Linked DNA regions of Homo sapiens. The protein of the gene in region 1 interacts with the protein of each later gene in a pairwise test. Each region holds a gene or a part of one and is shown on either strand. Other genes may lie near its edges.

The links. The genes of interacting proteins can lie anywhere in the genome.
Region 2: the proteins of RAB5A (region 1) and ZNF20 interact in binary tests that used the Homo sapiens proteins (3 or more experiments, as listed by UniProt).

What each region holds. Positions count from the first base shown.
Region 1 is NC_000003.12:19,950,097-19,953,596, forward strand, and holds part of RAB5A (ras-related protein Rab-5A), read left to right. Parts: intron 1-709; 5' UTR 710-802; coding exon 803-965; intron 966-3,500. UniProt on the Homo sapiens protein: The small GTPases Rab are key regulators of intracellular membrane trafficking, from the formation of transport vesicles to their fusion with membranes.
Region 2 is NC_000019.10:12,134,101-12,137,350, reverse strand, and holds part of ZNF20 (zinc finger protein 20), read left to right. Parts: intron 1-1,446; coding exon 1,447-1,582; intron 1,583-1,790; coding exon 1,791-1,851; intron 1,852-3,250. UniProt on the Homo sapiens protein: May be involved in transcriptional regulation.

The DNA.
Region 1 (3,500 bases):
ACAATTATTGTAAGTAAATAAGTCAGTAATAATCACCACATGGAGAACAACTGTTAGCATTTCTGTGTATGGTGTGCTTGAGCAGATGAGGAAACAGTTTTAAGTCTGCCGTTAGGCACACAAACCTGGGAGACTGAAAATATTTGTTGTCCAAAATTACCATTAATTAAATGAAAAATGCATCGTTTAACAGAAAACTTCAAATAATACTAAATTTTAGGATCTGTTCTAAAAGTTTCCCATTTATTAATAACATAATTTTTCTCAAAACAATGTTAATCCAAGTAGCCTGGCTACAGAACTTGAACTCGAGTCATCTCTCAGGTTGCCTGGGTTTGAAACTCGGCTCTGTCACTTCTGTGACAATAACTGTGTGACCTCAATTAAGCTTCTTAACATCTCTGTGCTTGTTTCCTCATTTATAAGGATTGTAATAATATCTCATTTTATAGGATTGTTGAGAAGTTAAGTACTTAAAGCACTGCCTGGCACAAACTTGAAGCTTTGAGGTTAGCCTTTAAAAAAAAAAGTAATTTTGGACTCACATCCTATACCTTTGAATTTCCTTTAAAAGATAGTGACATAATCTAAAGGGCATTGAAGGTCTAGTAGAGTTTAAGATAATCATGCTATAGGCAATATTTAAAGTGATTAATAGTAAATTTGCTTTACTGATTTGTATATTTAATTCATAATTGTTTCTTTACAGGTTTCTTTACCTCCAGAAAGAAGAATATTGGCCCCTTGAATTCTGGAAGTTCATTGAAGAGTCTGAAATTAGGGACTTATTTCAAATTTGGACATGGCTAGTCGAGGCGCAACAAGACCCAACGGGCCAAATACGGGAAATAAAATATGCCAGTTCAAACTAGTACTTCTGGGAGAGTCCGCTGTTGGCAAATCAAGCCTAGTGCTTCGTTTTGTGAAAGGCCAATTTCATGAATTTCAAGAGAGTACCATTGGGGGTGAGATTTTCTTTTTTCCCTGCTTCATTTAATCGAATCATACATTGACAGAAAATATTTTGATGTTCCAATTGTGTGATTATGAATAGCTAAATAAGTCATAGAGTGAAGAAAAGAGCTGTTCAGCTTACCTTAGCTTTAAAACTTGCCTTTATCTTTGTTAAAATGATGTGTTTTTATATTTGATTGTTTGGTTAATCCCTTGTGGTTATATTGTAGCTAAAATACAGATAAAAAACATGAGTAGAATCAGTGTCTCAAGTAATAACATTTGACCTGATACCTATTTCTAGCTAACAACTAGAAGCTTCTTCAAATTAATACAGTACATGTTTGTGCTCAATTATATTGGTTTAAAATGAATAGTAAAAAAGGTAACCTTAAATTCTGATCTATATAACTGAAGTATTTGCAAATAATTATACTTACTTGTAAAATTAAATGTAATTAAATACTGCTAGATGTACTTTTTTTTGGTATTTAAGAGATGGGATCTTGCTGTCGCCTAGGCTGGAGTGCAGTGTCCGGATCATAGCTCACTGCAGACTGCAGCCTGAAACTCTAGGCTCAAATGATCTTCTTGCCTTAGCCTCCCACCAAGTAGTTGGACCTAAGGGTGCATGCCACCATGCCAGGCAAGTTTTTTTTTTTTTTTTTTAAGAGTCAGAGTCTCGCTGTGTTTCCAGGTTGGTCTTGAACTCCTGGCCTCAAGTGAGCCTCCAGCCTCAACCTCCCAGGTAGCTGTGATTACAGGTGCTCCCTGCTGAGATGCATATGTAAGAATGCTCCTAAGCTGAGGGAAGAGAAAAAGTGATTAATGGAAAGGGACATAACAGGAAAATGGAACCTGAAGAAAAAGATGAAAGAAGAAGGGAAAGAGTAGGCACTGACAAGGGTGGTTATGGTGGGACAGAGATGAGGGGAAGGTAAGATGCAGGGTGAAAAGGAGACAACAAACAGTACAGTATTGTCAAGAGAGGACGTGAAATGGGAAAATTGAATTTTAGCTGGACATGGTGGTGCATTCCTGTAGTCCCAGGTATTTGGAGGCTGAGGCAGGATTATTTTAGCTTGGGAGTTCAAGTCTAGCCTGGGCAACATAATGAGAACCCATCTCTTAAAAAAAATTGACTTTAATCAAAGAAACCTATAATTATATAGCAGTGGGACAAGATAGCCTCTTTTGGGCCTCTGTTTCATCTGTGAAATGATGCTTTTCAATTAGATGATGTGTGGCAAGAGCCACACGGTTTGAGATTCACAATATTTTGCAAGTGATATATAATTAAGCAATGCTGTTTTCTAAGGTATTCATGTATATATTTTAACCCCATCCTGTAAAATTAAAGTCAAACTTTGGAAATAAGACAGGTAGATACCAACTGGCATGTGGCAACTTCTTGGAATCTGTCTTTCAGAAGCAAAACTTTATACTGTGCATTTAGTGAATGCTCTTCTGCAAATATACTTGAGAATGTTATTCATAATCTTAGACCCATTCTAGTAAGATAAGTTACAGAAGTCTACTACCTCCTGGCCTTTGTATATCTTGTTAAAATGTTATATTAGAATGTTTTATGTTTTTTCTAATGGCTGAGCATCAGAAAGCATCATGGAGCTTTTATTTTGAGTCAGAAGTCTTGGCATTTTAAAAAATGTTAATACACAATATATTAGACATCTTTGTGATTTTTTTTTTCCCTGAAAGTACATCCACGTGTGATTTTGTTGTTGTTGTTGTTATTGTTAATACATTATATCCAGTTTAATAATGAAATACTACTTCTCAAGAAGGCTTTGCTTCCTCCAGAAGTGATTTGGTCAAAGCTAACTGTCCCATCTAGTAGGAAAAGTTTAAAGACTGCTAGATCATGTCCACCCACTTATTTCACTGTTAATGGAAGCATTTCCCAAAGTATATGTGCATTCTGGGTTAAATAACCTGGGCCACGTAGGTTTGGGACTTACTATATGCTACTCTTCTCCTCTCTCTTTATTATTTTATTAAAACAATAAAAACTCTGAAGTACTGTAGTATAGGACTTAATTCCTGGGGAGCTTTGCAAGAGCTTAAGATTAGAATTTTTATCTTGTTTTGGATAATGCACTTCTAAGTTTATTTTTTCCTAATGATAGCTCAAGAAGGATGTTTAAAAGAAAAATGTAACCCCATATCCTGTGTATCATAAATATATCTCTGATATGTGTGTATCTCTATATAATCTCCATGTAACACCAGTTAGATTGTCTAGATTTCATTAATGAATTTTTCATAAAGATTTTCATTTCTATGTGTAGAGCTTCCTGTTTAAAAACAAAAAGGAATTTGCATCCAAATTTCTGTTAATCCTTTTTTTTTTTTTTTTTGGAGACAAGGTCTCTGTCGCCCAGGCTGGAGTGCAGTGGTGTAGCCCTGGCTCACTGCAACCTCCGCTTCCCAGGATCAAGCAATTCTCATGCCTCAGCCCCCCAAGTAGCTGGGACTACAGGCGCAAGCCACCACTCCTGGCCAATTTTTGTATTTTTAGTAGAGAT
Region 2 (3,250 bases), on another chromosome or scaffold:
CTGTTGAGGTCAAGTGCAGCTTTCTTCTTCTTCTTTTTTTTTTTTTTTTCTGAGACAGTCTCTTTCTGTCGCCCAGGCTGGAGTGAAGTGGCGCTCTCTCAGCTCACTGCAACCGCCGCTTCCCGAGTTCAAGCGATTCTCCTGCCTCAGCCTCCCGAGTAGCTGGGATTACAGGCACGCACACACCCGGCTAATTTTTGTGTTTTTTAGTAGAGAGGGAGTTTCACCATGTTGGCCAGACTGGTCTTGAACTCCTCACCTGAAGTGATTGGCCTGCCTTGGCCTCCCAAAGTGCTGGGATTACAGGCATGAGCCACTACACACGGCTTGAGTACGGGTTTCTTCTGTTATAAGAAAGTGAAACCCATAATGAAAATGCATGGTAAGGTAACATAAGAAGTCACGGTAACAGGCAACTCTAGAATTAATTCATATGGAGATGATGGGCTTCAAAGATTGTTTGTTCTCCTGTAGGTAACCATCTGTCCCTGTTCCTTCTGGTAAGTGAGGACCACTTGCATAATTGGCTGGTGATACCTGCTTTGTCGTGGTTTCACTATTTTCAGAATCTGCTGTTTTCCATTAGTCTATCTTTCCATCTGTTAATACCATTTTCTCTTGATTAGTATAGATTTTATTTATTTTATTTTATTTTATTTTTTCGAGACGGAGTTTCACTCTTGTTGCCCAGGCTGGAGTGCAATGGTGCAATCTCAGCTCACCGCAATCTCTGCCTCCCGGGTTCAAGTGATTCTCCTGCCTCAGCCTCCCAAGTAGCTGGGATTACAGGCATGTGCCAACATGCCCAGCTAATTGTGTATTTTTTTTTTTAATAGAGACAGGGTTTCTCCATGTTGGTCAGGCTGGTTTCGAACTCCCGACCTCAGGTGATCCGCCCACCTTGGCCTCCCAAAGTGCTGGGATTATAGGCATGAGCCACTGCGCCTGGCCTATTTATTTTATTATTATTTTTTTGAGATGGAGTATTGCTTTGTCGCCCAGGCCGGAGTGCAGTGACGCGATCTCGGCCCACTGTAACCTCTACCTCCTGGGTTCAAGTAATTCTCCTACCTCAGCCTCCCGAGTAGCTGGGACTACAGGCACCCACCACCACGCCTGGCTGATTTTTATATTTTTAGTAGGGACGGGTTTCTCCATGTTGGCCAGGCTGGTCTCAAACTCCTGACCTCAAGTGATCTGCCTGCCTCAGCCTCCCAAAGTGCTGGGATTACAGGCGTGAGCCACCGCGACTGGCCAAAGACCCTCTCTCTTAACAAAAAAAGGGTTGGTTTGTGGGAGGACGTGAGTATAGACAGAAAGTAAGAGGTGTGATGACCAAGTCATGGGATAAATGTTTGGAGTCCACAGTATCATGAGAACTTCTTAGGAATAAAGTATAGGCCTCCAGGGCTGTTAGTCTTACCTGTCCTCTTTTATATATGTGAGATGTTTCAGGATTCAGTGGCCTTTGAGGATGTGGCTGTCAGCTTCACCCAGGAGGAGTGGGCTTTGCTGGATCCTTCCCAGAAGAATCTCTACAGGGATGTGATGCAGGAAACCTTCAAGAACCTGACCTCTGTAGGTAAGAATGACAATATTACTTCCCAGTGAATTAGAGAACAAATGCTTCTAGCTCATCAATGCTGTTCATTGATTTGGAACATGGACAAAAAATACTTTGATGAATAAATCAGGCATGGCTACCATGTACCATGAATACAGAATCTAATGATTTTTAAATAAATTCATACTAATTCTGGATCTGTGTTTTCTCCGGGTCTGTGTTTTAGGAAAAACATGGAAAGTTCAGAACATTGAAGATGAGTACAAAAATCCCAGGAGAAATCTAAGGTAATTTTCTCTCGCAAGACAAGGCAATGCCTCTAGAAAATCTTAAAATGTGAGAAAATAGGCCGGGTACAGTGGCTCACGCCTGTAATCCCAGCACTTTGGGAGGTCGAGGTGGGTGAATCCCAAGGTCAGGAGTTCGAGACCAGCCCGGCCAATATGGTGAAACCCTGTCTCTACTAAAAATACAAAAAAATTAGCTGGGCGTGGTGGCACATGCCTGTAGTCCCAGCTACTTGGGAGGCTGAGGCAGGAGAATTGCTTGAATCTGGGAGGCAGAGCTTGCAGTGAGCCGAGATCGCACCACTGCACTCCAGCCTGGGTGACAGAGCGAGACTCCGTCTCAAAAAAAAAAAAAAAGTGAGAAAATGTTAAAAAGAAGCAAAAGAAATAAGCCCAGTATCAAATTTATGTATTCATAGAAAGTTTTCCTAAAAACATATGTTTAAATGTAACATACGCTGGGCTGGGCACTGTTGCGCATACCCCCAAATGCCAGTCCTTTGGGGCTTTCAGACCAAAGGATTGCTGGAGGCCAGGAGTTTGAGGCTGCAGTGAGCCATGTTGGTACCACTACACTCCAATTTGGACAACAGGGTGAGTTGAGACCCCAACTCAAAAAAAAAGACGCACATGTTTAGTATTTGTAAAATAGTTTACTTGAAAATAGGATTACAAAGCCCCATAGAAATACTAATTTTAAAAAAATATATATACCCAGACCATCTTGTAGAGCATATAGTCCATTAATATTCAAATGATTCAGACAGAGCAGAAAGCTGACACTTTGCCGGGCAGTGTTAACAATGCAAGTGCAATAGTTGTTAATGATATAAATCATGTTTTTTTCTTCTTTTTTGAGACAAGAGTCTCGCTGTGTCACCCAGGCGGGAGTGGAGTGGTGTGGTTTTAGCTCACTGCAACTGCCACTGCTTGGGTTCGAGGTATTCTCGTGCCTTAGCATCCCAAGTAGTTGGGATTACAAGCGCACGCCGTCACACCTAGCCAATTTTTGTATTTTTAGTAGAGACAGGGTTTCGCCATGTTGGCCAGGCTGATCTCAAACTCCTGGCCTCAAGCCATCTGCCCGCCTCAACCTCCCATGGTGCTGGGATTACAGGCGTGACCCACCATACCCAGCCAATATAGATCACTTTTTTATTTTTTTATTTTTTTTTGAGACAGAGTTTCGCCCTTGTCACCCAGGCTAGAGCACAATGGCGCAATCTCAGCTCACTGCAACCTCTGCCTCTGGGGTTCAGGCGATTCTCCCAACTCAGGCTCCCGAGTAGCTGGGATTACAGGCACCTGCCACCACGCCCAGCTAATTTTTGCATTTTTAGTAGAGACGGGGTTTCACCATGTTGGCCAGGATGGTCTCAAACTCCTGACCTCAGGTGAT